Linked DNA regions of Homo sapiens: regions 2, 3 and 4 are each reported to be linked to region 1. Evidence: microRNA targets listed by miRTarBase, many of them from high-throughput screens and not tested one by one. Region 1 holds a microRNA gene; each other region holds the end of a gene's coding sequence.

Region 1 (4,000 bases):
TAGGCAAGCTTCTGTGAAGTCATAAAACCCATGTTTTTGGCTCTGTGGGCCACAAGAGCTCCACTGCGAGTTTGCAACTGTAATGCAAACAACCAAGATGACACATACATGAAGGCAAGTGGCTGCGTTTCCATAAGACTAGTTACGAAAACAGGCGGTCAGCTAGATTTGTCCCGTGGGCATAGTTTGCCAACCCCCTGGTCTATATCACGAAAAGACACTATCAGCCAGGAGCAGTGGTTCACGCCTATAATCCCAGCACTTTGGGAGGCCAAGGCAGGAGGATCACCTGAGGTCAGGAGTTCGAGACCAGCCTGGCCAACATGGTGATACCCCATCTCTACTAAAAATACAAAAATTAGCCGCGCATGGTGGCGGGCGCCTGTAGTCCCAGCTACTCGAGAGCCTGAGGCAGGAGAACTGCTTGAACCCGGGAGGCGGAGGTTGCAGTGAGCTGAGATTGTGCCATTGTACTCCAGCCTGGGTGACAACAGCGAAACTCCATCTCAAAAAAAAAAAAAAAAAAAAAAAAAAGACACTATCAGCAGCACCTGCCCTCAGTGCAACCTGGGCAAACTCACAAAGCACAAATACAGTGAGCCGAGGTGGAAGCCAGTTTTGGTTCTGGGACTTTTCTCAGTAGGGACTGTGGGAGGACCCAGGTGGCCAGCCTTTGGTAAGAGAAAAATGTACAATTCGGGAAAACAAATAGTTGATTGAAAAGAAAAAGAAGTGCACACTCATGCATAGGGAATCATCCAGCATCCTGTCTGTTGCCACGTAAGGACTAGCAGAGAGGCTTGTGCATGCCTGGCAGTTTTTTTTTTTTTTTTTAAAGAGACAGGGTCTCCTTCTGTCTCAAAGGCTGGAGTGCAGTGGAGTGATCACTGTTCACTGCAGCCTTGAAACTCCTGGTCTCAAATGATCTGTCTGCCCCAGCCTGCCAAGTAGCTGGGACTACAGGCAAGTGCCACCATGCCCAGTTAATTTTTTATTTTTGTGGAGACGGGGTCTCACTATGTTGCCCAGGCCAGTCTGAGTTTAATCCTCCCACCTCAGCCTCCCAAAGTGCTAGGATTATAGGCATGAGCTACTGCACCTGGCTGGCAGTTTTATATACAGTCGCCCCTCGGTATCATAAGGGACTGATTACAGAATATCCCTCGAATACCAGTATACATCAAGTCCCTTATATAAAATGATGTAATATTTGCATAAAACCTACACGTATCCTCCCATATACTTTAAATCAGTGCTAGATCAATTATACTACCTAATACAATCTAAATGCTATGTAGGTAGTTGTTACACTGTATTGTTTAGAGAACAATCACAGGACAAAAAAGCTCTGTTCATGTTCAGTACAGATGCAACCACCCATTTTTTCCCGAATATTTTTGATCCACTGTCGGCTGAATCCCCGCATGCAGAACCCAAGAAGACGGACAGCCAACAATATATTTTGACCCTCATGACAGGCTTGGAGGGTAGGCACTATTATTATTAGCCACGTTTTACAGAAGGGGAAACTGAGGCTTAGAGAGGTGAAGTGCTTTGTTGGAGATCACACAGATGATAAGTGGCTGAGTTTGATCTGGAACTCAGGTCTATCTGATGCCGGAACCCAAGCTCTTAACTACCTCTTCCAAATCTCGACCCCACCCCATACACAGATGGGGAAGCTATGTGCCCCAGGTCAGACAGCTGCTCAGAGTAGTGCCCGGCTCAGACTCCTGGACCATCTCCCAGTCTTGCCCCTGACACCTGGCACAGCCCCTGCTCAGGACTTCCTGCCCAGAAACACAGAGGGCCCCTGCCTGGTAAACAAGGCAAACAGGAAAGGGCCAGCGTGATCTTGTAGGGACCAGTGCTTCCTGAGCCCTCACCCCCACCCACCATGGGATCCCGTCTCTACTCCTCTGTCCAGAAGCTGTCAGAGGTAGGGGACTGAGCATAGGGGCAGGAATCCTCCACACCTGGCTGATTCCTAGCAATGCAGCCCTGGGTTGGGGGTCAGTGGGGAGGTGTTATCTAACTACTTTGTGCCTCACTTTCCTCATCTGTGAAATGGGGAGGCCATTAACACTTGTGAAGACTAAATAAATAAACTTGCAGTGGCTCATGCCTGTAATCCCAGCACTTTGGGAGGCCAAGGTGGGCGGATCACCTGGGGTCAGGAGTTCAAGACCAGCATGGCCAACATGGTGAAACCCCGTCTCTGCCAAAAATACAGAAATTAGCCAGGCGTGGTGGTGAATGCCTGTAATCCCAGCTACTTGGGAGGCTGAAGCACAAGAATTGCTTGAACCCAGGAGGAGGAGGTTGCAGTGAGCCAAGATGGCGCCACTGCACTCCAGCCTGGGTGACACAGCAAGACTCTGTCTCACAATAAATAAACTCACATAAAGCACTCAGAACAGAGCTTTGTTACTACCTGACTGTTATTCCTTCCCTTTAGGGTAGTGGTTAAACTTTGGTGTGCTTCTGAATAGCCCAAAACTTTAAAAGGCAGATTTCCTGGGGCCTGCCCTCAAATATTCTGATTTGGAAGAGGCAAGGTGGAGCTGAGGGAATTTGCATTTTAACGTGGAGCTGAGGGAATTTGCATTTTAACAAGCGCTGCCCCTTGCTCCCTCTCTGTGAAACACCGCTTAAGGCACTGAACTCAGCGTTCTAGTAGGCTGGTGCAAAAGTAATGCAGTTTTTGCCACTGAAAGTAATACCAAAGACCGCAATTACTTTTGCACCAGCTAACTATTCACTGGCTGCCCACCTGGGCCAGGCTCAGGAATGCAATCATCGTGGAGTGCAGGGGTCAGGAGTGTAGACCTAAAGTTGGACAGACCCAGGCGATCTTGGTGTGGCCACTCACCAGTGGCCTTGAGCCAGTGACTTCTTGTCTCTGAGCCTCACTCACCTGTTATAACGTTTAACATTTCCAAAATAAGTCTGAAAACGGCACCTACCTTGTGGAGCTGTTGTGAAGCTGGCAAAGAGTGTGAGCTCAGAGGCATCAGCTACAATTCTGTACCATTATTTATTAGGACGGACACAGTCCTGCCCATAATGAGTGTCACGGCCATTGAGCCGGCAGACAATCAACCCAGTGGGATGGATGCCCAGACAGACTGGGGTGTGCAGGAGGCGGTGGGAACACGTTCAGGGCACGCTGGAGCACCCAGTGTCACGTCCTGCCCAGAAGACCTAATAACACCCAACAGACAGGCACCACAACAAAGTGGCATCGACTCCCACTGCAGGCCTCCCACGGCAACCCTGTGGGGGAGACAGCCCCTCTCTGGCTGGATCATGAATAAGAAATCCAGAGGCGGAATGGGCTGCTCACACTCTGCTCACACTCACACAGCAGGTGCAGGGCAGCATGAGGACTCAAACCCAGGTCTAATGGGTTCTTCCACCATTTTGTGCCATGGATCTCTTCAACCATCTGGTGAAATCTATGGGCCCCTTCCCAGAATAATGCTTTTAAATGGAATACAATAAAATATACAGGATGAAAAGGAAACCAACATAGTAAACTTTGGCTAAGAATGTGATTACAAAAATTGCTGTGAAATATTATCTGTAACCTATCTGCTCCTTTATTAAAGCAATCAATAACAAGATCTAGTAGCAGACAGAATAATCACTGTCATCTGCAAGCAGACACATCTGTGGCACCTAAAATGTGATATAAAAATATGGGCCAGGAGCAGTGGCTCATGTCTATAATCCCAGCACCTTGGGAGGCCGAGGTGGGCGGATCACCTGAGGTCAGGAGTTCAAGACCAGCCTGGCCAACATGGTGAAACCCCGTCTCTACTAAAATACAAAAAAATTAGCCAGGCGTGGTGGCAGCCACCTGTAATCCCAGCTACTTGGGAGGCTGAAGCAGGTGAATCACTTGAATCTGGGAGGCAGAGGTTGCAGTGAGCCGAGATCGCGTCATTGCACCCTAGCCTGGGCGACAAGAGCGAAACTCCATCTCAAAAAAAAAGTG
Region 2 (4,125 bases), not on the chromosome of region 1:
AGCCTGTGAATTAAACTGACAAAAGGCATTTTAACAGGAGAAAACAAGTTTATGCATGCAAGGCATATACACTTGGGAGAACTCAGTGATGAGTAACTGAAAGGGATAGTTAAAATCGGTGGCTTATAATCATCTTGATAAGCAAAGGGGAGGGGGAGAAGACATTTATGTAAACACAATGACTTTTTACAAAGATACATGAGTTTTCAGGTGAACAAACAGGAGATAAAAAAGTACGTGATAATGTTTATCTATACAGGTATAAATGGTCCTTAAATTTCCTTCGGGGCCATACAACACTTCTGGAGAAGGGATTTGGGGTAGGATTACTTGTGTTCTAGAAGTAGATCAAACCTGAAGAGGAATTTATGGCAGCCTTATTTCCTAGAAGTTACTGCTTGTAGTCAGATAAGCAAAGGTCTGAGAAGACTTTTTTTTCCCCTGCATATGGTATGTTAAATCTCAAATGTCTTTGGCTTAAAATAATCTTTATACCAACTCTGGAGTTCTGAGTTGGTCCCCACACATATATAATTCGCATTAAATAAAAAGGGAATGCATGAGTCTGTACTGATTTGAGTACATAAATTAATAAGGAAGAAAAGAAAGCTCTGCCCAACAGCAGAAGGCCAAGTAAGAAATGGAAAGAATGATAAAATGTAGAAATTATTTTATGGCAACTGTCACTGTAATAATTATTTTAGGCGAGAATCATCCATGGATGCTAAAATTAGTAGGTGAAAGTATGAAAGTAGAAGGAAATTTCCATAGTTTCAAAGTATCTATCTATCAGATATTCATTAAGTACAAGGAAAACTACTAGAGAGTTACCGGCACCAACTCTCCTTACAATAAAAAAATCCATGTATAAGTTTTGCCTCCCAAAAAACTTAGATACTAATAACTTACTGTTGACCAAAAGCCTTACCCATAGCATAATCAATTAACACGTATTTTGTATGTTATAAATACTGTATTTGTGCAATAAAGTAAGCTTGAGAAAAGACAACAATTGAACTCAACACAATAGCAACAGGAGGTGGCTATGAAATTATTACAGTTGTACAGTATGTACTACAGTTAATTTTATGCAGTTATGATTTATTACTGCAGCTTTACTTTTATTTACATTTCTCTCAACTGCAAATGCAGTTAAAGTTTATATCAGGTATCAACATCATGTGCCTCCTGATATGATGTACTGAGAAGGGTGCAATGACATCTGTAGCACTGCTGCCCCAAAAGCATCACCTGAATCTATTCTTGAAGACATTTAAGACAAACCAAAGTTGAGAGACATTTTACAAGATAAAAGTGGCTTGTGTTCTTCTTATATACTGTCATAAACAAACAAACAAACAAACAAACAAGAAATACAGGTTGTTCTAAACTAAAAGAGACTAAAGAGATGGGGCAAGCGAATGTATTTCATGACCTGGGAGTACAAAGGAAATTATTGGGATAAATAGCAAAATCTGAATAAGGTCTATAGATTAAATAGTTCACTTAAGTGTTAATTTCCTTAGTTTGCCAATGGTAATATTGTTATGCAAAAGAACATCGTGATTTTAGGAAATACACAATGAAATATTTAAAACATCATGTCTTCAACTGACACACAAATATGAAAACATCATGTGAAGAACATCATGTCTTCATCATGTCTTCAACGGACACACAGATAGTTCGGGGACAAAAATTAAACATACATATGCATATATGTAGAGGGAGAAAGAGATAGAGCAAATGTGGTAAGTGGTTAACATTTAGGTAATCTGGGTAAAGGGCATATAAGAATTCTTTGTCAAATTATTGCAACTTTTCCATAAATATGAAATTATGTCAAAACAAAAAGAAAAGAGAGAACAAAAAAACCAACCAAAACCTTACAAAACAGACAAAATTTAGTTGTAATAGCAAATCTTGGGATCCAAATGCAATGCTTGTAAGCAACCCCTGTTCAGGTCTGTCTCCTCCAGAGGGGTGGGCCTGGTTACCTGCTTCATTCTCTCTCTTCCCTTCTCCTCCCTAACTGGCTCCTGTGGAAGGTCCCTCCAAGGTTGGAAAGAGAGGGAGGAGGTTAGAGGAAAGGGGTTTAATCCATACGTGACTGACAGAGCTGTAATCTGCAATTGGTGCCTTCTGGTAAGGCAGATTCTAAAGTGGCTTCTTTCTGTCAATGAGACGTTGGATATTTTTGGAGCTCCTGTTCGGTACCCACTGCATTTCTTGGTGTGAATAATGCCTCAGCTAGCTTTTTACTGCAGAGTACACCTCCAGAGATGGTCAGTTTTATGACTCAACTTGGCTAGGTTGTAGCACCCAGTAACTCAATCAAATACTAATCTTAGGTGTTGTGGTGAAGGAATTGTGTACATGCAACCAATATTTACAATTCATTGACTTTATGTAAAGGAGACTGCTTTAGATAATCTAGGTGAAACTGATCCCATCAGTCGCTTTAACAACAGTTGAAATTTTCACAATCGTAATCTGGTTAGGTAAATGGATGCCTTTTATTTTAGGAAAGACATACTGAAGTATTTAGGTGTATGAACAAAACTGAGGTTTCCATGATGAAGAAGAAATTCCACTTGTGGACTTCAGGGACAGCTCCTGCATGTTTCCAGCCTGCACTTCCTGATAGCCTACCCTACAAATTTAGCACTTAACCATCTGGGGCCCAAAATTATGTAAACCAATTATTTGCAATAAATCTCTATCTATCTATCTATCTATCTATCTATCTATCTATCTATCATCTATCTATCTATCTATCATCTATCTATCTATCATCTATATATCTGTCTATCTGCCTTTCTAGCTAGCTAGATACCTAGCTGTCAGGTTGGAGCAAAAGTAATTGCGGTTTTTGCTGCAATTAAAGGTTATGGCAAAAACCACAATTACTTTTGCACCAACCTAATAGCTATCTATCTAGGGCTAGGGCTATCTATCTAGGGCTAGGGCTATCGATCTAGGGCTGTTAAAAGTGTATTCAACCCAAGGTATCTAATACACATAGTTTATAATGGCATGTGAGAAATAAACTCCTTCCTTAAAAGATTAAATATTACTTCTTTTTCCAAAACCTAAATTGTTTCATCAATTTCCACTAGAAATGTATCTTCAATAAGCAGGCTGGGCACAGTAGCTCATGCCTATAATCCCAGCACTTTCGACGGCCAAGTTGGGAGGACTGCCTGAGCTCAAGAGTTCGAGACCAGCTGGGGCAATATAGTGAGACTCTGTCTCTATTTAATAAATAAAAAGGATAATTAAAAAAATAATAAGCATAATGGTGTAGACCTGGTAAATCTTTTGACAGCAACGTTTATAACCCACATGCCATGTATTTCACTACATTCATAAAGGGGCTTGGGGATTTATCCAGAATGACATACCATTCATTTCAAAATAACATACATCTTTTCTCTAGACAGCTAAGAATATTTATAGTTGTTAAAGCAAAAAGAAATTCTTGGTAACAAGTTCTTGGTGTATGGATTGCTTTGGCTTTGATGGAAATATCTACTTTCTCCAAAGATTGGTCCCTGGGCCTCAAAGCATTTACCCCAAGAAATAACTGCTATGACTTAGGTCTTCAAGGCAGCTTCCAGTGCTCGAGCTTTCTCTGTGATGTTCTTCTGAAAAGGCATCATAAAATCGTCGAAGTCCACCTCATGTGTAAACCTCTCTCGCCGTAGTTCCCTCTTCCTGATCAGCTCTGCTGTTGTGGCTTCAGGACTCCAAATCTTAAAAAGAAAAATAGCCATACCCCAGCAGGTATGAGTATGACAGCCAGTAAATATGCTAATATCCAGACAATTTTCAATACACAGTTTTAACTTAAAAATTTGTTTATAGTTTTAACTTAAAACTATTAAATTTACTTTTAGATGTGTTTTAACTTCTTCCCCCCCTCTCATATGACACTAGTGGTTGCACGAGCATCACTGTTTTTGATGATGACTGTCTAGACAAATAATGTCGGAAATATTATTCAGTTACTTCTCTGGCCAGTTATGCTCAGACCAGCTGCTGTGCGTTTTTTAGGATGCCAAAACAGGGAAGCAAAGGAATTAGAAGATCATCTAGGTTTACTACCTATATGTCTTATGTAGA
Region 3 (4,125 bases), not on the chromosome of region 1:
CACTTTTACCACTTTTATTCAACATGATACTGGAAGTCCTGGTCAGAGCAACTAGGCAAAGAAAGAATAAAAGGGCATCCAAATTGTAAAGGAAGAAGTCAAGTTAACCTTGTTTGAAGAGGACATGATCTTATTACTTAGAAAGACCTAAAAACTCCACCAAAAAACTGATAGAACATAAAACAAATTCAGTAAAGTTGCAGGTTACAAAATCAACATACAAAAATCAGTAGCATTTATATGTGCCAACAGTGAACAATCTGAAAAATCAAGAAAGTAATCCCATTTACAATAGCTGCAAAAAATATAAAATACCTAGGAATCAATCTAACCAAAGAAATAAAAGTTCTGTACAAGGAAATAAAATTCTGATGAAAGAAACAGAAGAGGACACCAAAAAGTGGAAATATATTCCATGCTCATGGATTGGAAGAATAATATTGTTAAAATGACAATACTACTACAAACTACTTACAGATTCAATGCAATCCCTATCAAAATACCGATGACATTCTTCACAAAAAGAGAAAAAAAAAAAACAAACCTAACATTTATATAGAACCACAAAAGACCCTGAATAGGCAAAGCAATCCTGAGCATAAAGAACAAAGCTGGGTTGGGCATAGTGGCTTATACCTGTAATCTCAGCACTTTGGGAGGCCAAAATGGGAGAACTGCATGAGGCCAGGAGTTCGAGCCTGCAGTGAGCTATGAGTGCACCACTGCACTCCAGCCTGGGCAACAGAGTGAGACCCTTCACACACACACACACACACACACACACACACACACACAAAACAGAGTGAGACCCTTCACACACACACACACACCACACACACAAACATACCCTGAAACACAAAAACCCCCAAACCAAAAAACAAAGCTGGAGGGATCACAATACCGGACTTCAAAACTTATTACAAAAGCATAGTAACCAAAACAGCGTGGTACTGGCATAAAAGCAGACACATAGACCAGTGGAACAGAATAGAGAACCCAGTTATAAATTCATGCATTTATAACCAACTCATCTTTGACAAAAGCACCAAAAACTTAGAATGGGAAAAGTCCAGTCTTTTCAAAAAAAATGGTGCTGAGAAAACAGCATAACTATGCAGAAGAATGAAACTAGACCCCCATCTCTCACTATACAAAAATATCAAATCAAAATGGATTAAAGAGTTGAACCTAACACCTGAAACTGTGAAACTCCTAGGAGAAAGCATTGGGCAAATACTTTGAGATGTTGGTCTGGGCAAAGATTTCTTGTATAAGACCTCAGAAGCACAGGCAACCAAAGCAAAAATAGACAATTGGGATTACATCAAGCTAAAAAGTTTCTGTACAGCAAAGGAAACAGTCAACAAAGTGAATAGACAATCCACAGAATGGGAGAATGGGAGAAAATATTTGCAAACTATTCACCTGATAAGGGATCAATAATAAGAATACATAAGGAGCTTAAACAACTCAATAGTAAAAAAAAAATCCAATTTAGTAATGGGCAAAAAATTTGAACAGACATTTCTCAAAAGGAGACATACGAATTGCCAACAGGTGTAAGAAAAAATGTTCAGTATCACTAATCATCAGAGACATGCAAATCAATATCATAATGTGATATCATCTCACCCCAGTTAAAATGGCTTGAATCAAAAAGACAGGCACTAACAGATGCTGGAAAGGATGTGGAGAAAGGGGAATCCTCATACACTGTTGGTGGGAATGTGAATTAGTATAGCCACTACGGAGAACAGTATGGAGGTTTGTCAAAAAACTGAAAATAGAACTACCATGTGCTCCAGCAATTCTACCACTAGGTACATATCCAAAAGAAAGGCAGCATGGTGCTCAATAAGTATTTATTGATAAATTAGCCTGAAGCAATGTGGGATAGCCATTACCTAGATCAGAAAGGTGTGGTTTTTATGGATTACACTGTGGTAAAATTCCTTTTATATATATTTTTGAGGAGAGAGGGTGGAAATGTTAACAAAAGCGGGAACTTTTGGAATACAAAAATTAGGATCTTATAGTACTTTCATAGCAACATTAATGAAGCATAAGGTAAATGCTTAGTAAATGATCATTCGTAGGCTTTTTCTCATCCTATAAAATTGCTCAGCCTTTTTGGGGAGCCACCTGTTGTTCTTGAATCAGAGCTGGTGTGGAGTCAACCTAGGAGTCAGCATCTTAGAAGAGATTAGGAGCATGCTACTTCTCTGAGCCCCCAAATTAGTAGATGGATAATCTTAGGAAAATTGGTTGTTTAGTTCCTTCTGGTGAGTATTTTTGGATGCTTGAAAAGAATCGTAGCCAACCCATCTCTTTGGCAGTTAAACAAGCATATATGACTAAGCAGATTGTGTATTTACATAGGACACGTATTACATTTCAGTTACAAACACCAGGGAGTGATAAATATCATCAAGGTGTCCTAAGTGGGGAGGGAAGAATAGAGTCGGAATTCTTACGAGGTGCACAATTTTAGGGATCAGCAAAGAATGTTGGCATCCTGGAATTTAGCATCATTATTAAAAGAAAACTTTGTTGCTTATTACAAGCTTATTACTGGACATACCATGTTTCCTTCTGGTTGTACATTGCGTTATATATATTATAAATAGGGTGTTGAGTCCAATCTCTCTCCTTCACTGCAAGACCCTGTTGCAGTGGTCCCTATACACAAATATATGTGTATATAGGTGTTGTTATCCCACATCCTTCAGCCAGTTAAGGGCAGGGCTGACTCTGAGGCATTGTGGGAATAACAACACTGCCTATATACACAAATACGTGTGTATATATGTGTGTGTATATATAGGTGTGTGTGTATATATATATGTATATATACACACACACACACACACACACACACACACACACACACACACATATATTTTGCCCATTTCTTAACAGAAATTACTATTAGGGGAAAAATGACCAGTTTTCACTTGAGGGAAATGAAAATTGAGATAGTTTTGCCCCAAAGTCTGGTCTTGAAAACACACATACACTCACCATTTGATTCGTTCTTTAATACCCACACACAAATAATACAATTAGACAACATTCTCTGTGTTTTAACTTACTCATTAGAGACTTATATTTGAATGGAACACATTCATTATTCTTGTTTAAAGTATAATTTATTTGTTGTGACAAAAATGTTTTTATAACATAGTTTTTTTCTATATTGGCTTCTCAGACATGGTTCGTTCCTGTTCTCTTGCCCTTCAAAATCTACTGGTGTGGACAAATGGGAAGCTGCCAGCAGCCTCAGAGCTATTTCTCCTTTCTCCTTTCTTTCTTGAGTCACATGAGTCACAGAAGTTCCTTGTAACCTGAATGGGTTTGGTTAGAAATCTGAGATCATCTTGAAAGTAAGGAAGGATTCTTCCCACAGAAACTCAGAGGTTGCAGGGGAATCATTTGGCAGTGAACAAAAGTTGAGATTGGCTGTGGAATTGGCTGCCAACCTGTTCAACCAATAGGGAGAACCTAGGTGACTAAGTTCCGGCCAGTTCTAAATATTTTCAAAAAGTGTAATATGTGTCCTGAAAGATCCAGATGAACATCTATGTGACCCAAGCCTGCCAATGAGTGCCTCCAGATCTTTGTTTTGGTCTGAAGCCGTGGCAGCAAAGTTGCACATTTGAGAATGTAAAGCCTTCATTTACACACATTCGGTTCCCAGCACTAGCTTGGAACTGAATGTAGGAGGATGCAGTGGAGGCAGAAACAATTGTTTCCCTGGCTTCCCTTTAGAAGAGAAGTGTGCTGGTGAGAAAAGCAAGCAGGATATAAATGGCCTCTGTGATGGGGCTGCTGAAGACTTGGTTGGCCAAGCCTTCGAGTCTGATACTCTTGGGTGTAATCATGAAGAAAGGCTTGAAGGCTGAGCTCTGGGGAATCTTGGCAGCTAAGGCTAAGGTTGACACTGGAAAGGTGGTTGAGGGTGCGGTTGGCACTGGAAAATGGCATCGGAACCTCCGTTGGGTGGTGGGTGGGCACTCGAGAAAGGAGGGTAATCTGATGGAATGCTAGAGCCAGATTCATGAGCAAAATTCAATCAACCCTTCTCCAGTGCCAAGTGTTTTCAGAGGAGGGGAAAAGCTGGGGGTT
Region 4 (4,125 bases), not on the chromosome of region 1:
TCAATTCAAACTTTTATCAGACAGCATCATGTTGTCCCAAGAGTTATTGTTTAGAAAACGAAGAGGCAGTAAGAAAAATTGCCAGCCAAGTGTCTGATGAGATCCTTGAAAGCTTGCCTCCAGAAGTCCTAAGCATCGAAGGAGCAGCCATTTGCTATTACAAAGATGATGTCTTCATTATAGGAGGCTGGAAAAACAGTGATGATATTGATAAACAGTATCGGAAAGAAGCCTACCGATATTGTGCGGAGAGGAAGAGGTGGATGCTTCTTCCTCCTATGCCACAACCTCGTTGTAGAGCCACTGCTTGTCACGTGAGGATCCCATACCGGTACTTGCATGGCACACAGAGATACCCTATGCCTCAAAACCTGATGTGGCAGAAGGACCGCATCAGACAGATGCAAGAGATACATCGTCACGCCCTGAACATGAGGCGAGTGCCAAGCTCTCAGATTGAATGCTAGGTTCTCTCAAGCGTGCCGATTAAAACTGTTACACCCGTTTCGTGAAGCTGAAGATACCCAGGCTGTTATTTAAAAAAGTATGTCGATAACTTATTTTCTACATGAACTGATTATTACCCCATATAAAGGAAATAGAGTTAAAAACTAAAGAATGGGAGACTCAGTTCAATACATGGTCATTTTGTTAGCTTGCAATTTTTGTCTTTGGTTTGTTTGTTTGTGCTAGCTAAATAAGATCTTATTAAGGACAAGTGGAAAAATCAGGTGTAGTTGCTTAGCTGTTTTCCTGCCAACGAGTTATGACTCCTTTGTCTTGAGGACTTACGTTTTGAACATGCTTTAAGCACCAATTTTATTTGCACATTTACTTTGATATTCTTTTTCATTTTTTATTAAATGATTGGTTTTGGCAAGATCTGACTTCTGCATTGAGCCCTCATCTGCAGGAGGCATGTGCAATAGTGAGACTGAAATTTGAATGAAAACACTCAATATTTCAGCAAGATAATTTGAGAATGTTTGCATTGATATTTTCTTATGTTTATCTAGAAATGCCAGTTTCCTTCCTAGAAGATGTGACTGATGAGAAATTTTTTACTGGCTCATGCATTTTTTGAATATTTTTCATTAGCAGCTGTTTATAGACTTTAAGCCTTCAATCTGAGGTGACGGTAGTTGGCAAAAGTATAGATCTTTAGCTAATTGACTAAATACAGAGCAAGTTACATGTGTGAACTTTGTTTCTCTAAGAAGAAAAGTATTAGTGTAGACTGGGAAATCAAAGGCATTTAAAATTTTTTCAACATTTTTTTCAGGAGTTGCAGGATTATTTGAGGATATGTTAATGAGTGTAAATAATGCCTATGACAATCGACACTCAATGCCTTCCATTTTAATTTTTGCTCTAATGCATATTATATAGAATCTTCATTATTCCTTTTCTCTTTTTTTTTTTTTTTTTGCTCATGTTGCCCAGGCTGGAGTGCAGTGGTGCAATCTCGGCTCACTGCAACCTCTGCCTGCCAGGTTCGAGTGATTCTCTTGCCTCAGCATCCCGAGTAGCTGGGATTACAGGTACCCACCATCACGCCTGGCTAATTTTTGTGCTTTTAGTAGAGACAGGGTTTCACCATGTTGACCAGGCTGGTCTTGAACTCCTGACCTCAGGTGATACGCCCGCCTCAGCCTCCCAAAGTGCTGGGATTACAGGCATGAGCCACCGTGCCCAGTCCATTATTCTTTTCTACAAGAAACTGTTTTTTTCCAAAATGGGAAGGAAGTCACAATTTAGAGAAATGTTGCTAAAGAGAAGCCTTATTATTTCTGATTGTTATATTTTATCCAGTTGCCCCACACTTTCAAACTTTGCCTGAGCCTAGGATACCAAATTTGGGTACATAATTTTGGCTTTTAAAGGTTTATGGGCTGGGCACGGTGGCTCATGACTGTAATCCCAACACTTTGGAGGAGGCTGAGGTGGGCAGATTTTGAGCCCAAGAGTTCAAGACCAGCCTGGGAAACATAGCAAGATCCTGTCTCTACAAAAAGTAGAAAAATTAGCTGAGTGTGGTAGCTGGCACGTGCCTGTAGTCCTTCCTACTTGAAGCCAAGGTGGGAGGATCACCAGAGCCTGGGAAGGTTGAGGCTGAAATGAGCTGTGATCATGCCACTCTACCTTGGGTGACAGAGAGACGGTGTCTCAAATAAAAATTAAAAAGATCACTGAAGCTATCTTTTATTTAGTTTTATACGTTATTCGAATTATCTTATGTCTCCTGAGCTTTATAAAAGTTAGCACTCAAATTGACTTTTTTTTTTTTTTGGGCCAGGGGATGGGGTCCCACTTTGTCACCCAGGTTGGAGTACAGTGGTATGATCTCGGCTCACTACAACCTCCACCTCCTGGATGCAAGCCATCCTGCCACCTCAGCATACGGAGTAGCTGGGACTATGGGCACGCGCCACCACGCCCAGCTAATTTTTTTTTTGTATTTTTGGTAGAGATGGGGTTTCTCCATGTTGCCGAGGCTGGTCTCCAACTCCTGGGCTCAGGAGATCCACCCGTATCAGCCTCCCAGGGTGCTAGGATTAGGTGTGAGCCACCACGCCCGGCCTCAAAATAACTTTTTTTTTTTTTTTTGAAACAGTCACGCTTTGTCGCCCTGGCTGGAGTGCAGTTGCGCAGTCTCAGCTCACTGCAACCTCCACCTCCCGGGTTCATGTGATTCTCCTGCCTCAGCCTGCTGAGTAGCTGGGATTGCAGGTGTGTACCACCACGCCCGGCTAATTTTTGTATTTTTAATAGAGATGGGGTTTCACCATGTTGGTTAGGCTGGTCTCGAACTCCTGACCTCGTGATCCGCCCACCTCAGCCTCTCAAAGCGCTGGGATTACAGGCATGAGCCACCATGCCCAGCCCTCAAATTTACTCTTAATGCTCAGTTAATATAAAGGATTCCTAACAGTTTACAATGTGGTTTTCTTGTTTTTGTTGTTGTTTTGGTTTTTTAAGATGTGAGGTCTCACCTTATTGGCCAGGCTGGTCTCAAGCTCCTTTCCTCAAGCAATCCTCCCACCTTGGCCTCCCAAAGAGCCACCTGTCCAATGATTTATCCTGTTTCTTAAGAACTGTCTTTACCTTCTTAGACATTTTGTCATACCATTCTAGAAGTCAAATTCCAAGTGCAGTGATTTTTTTTTTCCCTAGTCCATTATAGTTAATCTTCTTGTTAGTGATCAAATACCAAAAGAGAAAAGCACAACCAGAAATTTTGGCTATTTGCTGCAAGTTGTAGGTCTTGGGCTCTATACTAAGAACTTGAAATTTTTAAATTAGTATCCCTGCCTAGGTGAAAAGTTTTTAATAAATGTGTTGAAAATCAACTTTAAATCCATTTAATTTAGACTGGAGTGGGCGTGAGAAACTGCAAGTCTATTTCTACATATAAGGATATATTATTATATTGTCCCATCCCACCACTACCTTTTTCTCAATTTCTATTTCTTTGTAGTTATTTTAGTAAAAGCCATTTGGATTCTGAGAAGCACTAATTCTTAGCTGTGATAGGTCTATGCAAGTAAGACAGAATCATTAAATGAAGCTCACTAAATGAAGTTCTCATTTCTCTCCAACAGACTGTGCTAGCAAACTTCGTTTTCTTGATTGTATTTAAATAATTTAGTATCTCACTACGATAATAGTTTTTAACTGGAAGGGTGTGATGTGTTTTTTGTTTTTTGTTCTCAGAGTTGTCTTCTGAGATAATTATTACCAAGTCATTTGTGGGGTTGTGTTTTTTTCACATCATGTGACAGAAATTATAACTCATAAGATTTAGGCATAATCTGGTTTTAAAACCTTGATTGAAACTGTTGTTTTTTAACTTAGCAGGCAGCCTAGGCCATGGCTGAAAAGAAGGGGTAAGTCCTTCATTGCATGATGATGTGTGCAGGTTTTCCTGATTTTCTAATTTTTATTTTTGAATTCACATGTGTAATTTCACATCAATAACTTGTGTTTCTGAAATATCCTAACTAACTTGTTAATAAGGAAAGAAACCAGATTTGCTTAAATCTGTTCAAGGCTGACATTCTGAAATTCTAAACTGGAAATAACTTCCCAGAGTATTTGGAAAGGTTCTAAGTACAAGGATCAGGC

Evidence for each region. The annotated mature microRNA hsa-miR-548ap-5p reads AAAAGUAAUUGCGGUCUUU and lies in region 1 at 2,725-2,743, opposite strand. An mRNA with a match to its seed (bases 2 to 7 or 8) in the 3' UTR can be bound and repressed. Matches are read on the target gene's strand: a 7mer-m8 pairs with bases 2 to 8, a 7mer-A1 pairs with bases 2 to 7 and ends in A, and an 8mer does both.
Region 2: the mRNA of ANKEF1 is a reported target of hsa-miR-548ap-5p. Seed matches in the 3' UTR shown: 7mer-m8 at 2,857-2,863 and 8mer at 986-993.
Region 3: the mRNA of PLET1 is a reported target of hsa-miR-548ap-5p. Seed matches in the 3' UTR shown: 7mer-m8 at 3,381-3,387 and 7mer-A1 at 3,139-3,145.
Region 4: the mRNA of KLHL11 is a reported target of hsa-miR-548ap-5p. Seed matches in the 3' UTR shown: 7mer-m8 at 832-838.

The regions. Positions count from the first base shown.
Region 1 is chr22:26,552,553-26,556,552 of GRCh38, forward strand. MIR548J (microRNA 548j) reads right to left here and starts at 2,771; the gene lies at 2,660-2,771. All of the region lies in intron 1 of TPST2 (tyrosylprotein sulfotransferase 2), which reads right to left. RefSeq lists an enhancer at 3,235-4,000.
Region 2 is chr20:10,055,132-10,059,256 of GRCh38, reverse strand. It overlaps ANKEF1 (ankyrin repeat and EF-hand domain containing 1), which reads right to left. Exons shown (of 11, transcript NM_022096.6): 11 at 954-3,755. The coding sequence ends at 3,597. The region is part of intron 3 of SNAP25-AS1 (SNAP25 antisense RNA 1); the gene reads left to right. Among named protein-coding and RNA genes, the nearest start is that of ANKEF1, 22 kb to the right of the region's middle.
Region 3 is chr11:112,245,035-112,249,159 of GRCh38, forward strand. It overlaps PLET1 (placenta expressed transcript 1), which reads right to left. Exons shown (of 4, transcript NM_001145024.1): 4 at 3,119-3,940. The coding sequence ends at 3,765. Among named protein-coding and RNA genes, the nearest start is that of PLET1, 14 kb to the right of the region's middle.
Region 4 is chr17:41,850,082-41,854,206 of GRCh38, reverse strand. KLHL11 (kelch like family member 11) reads left to right here. Exons shown (of 2, transcript NM_018143.3): 2 at 1-4,125. The coding sequence ends at 467. Among named protein-coding and RNA genes, the nearest start is that of KLHL11, 13 kb to the left of the region's middle.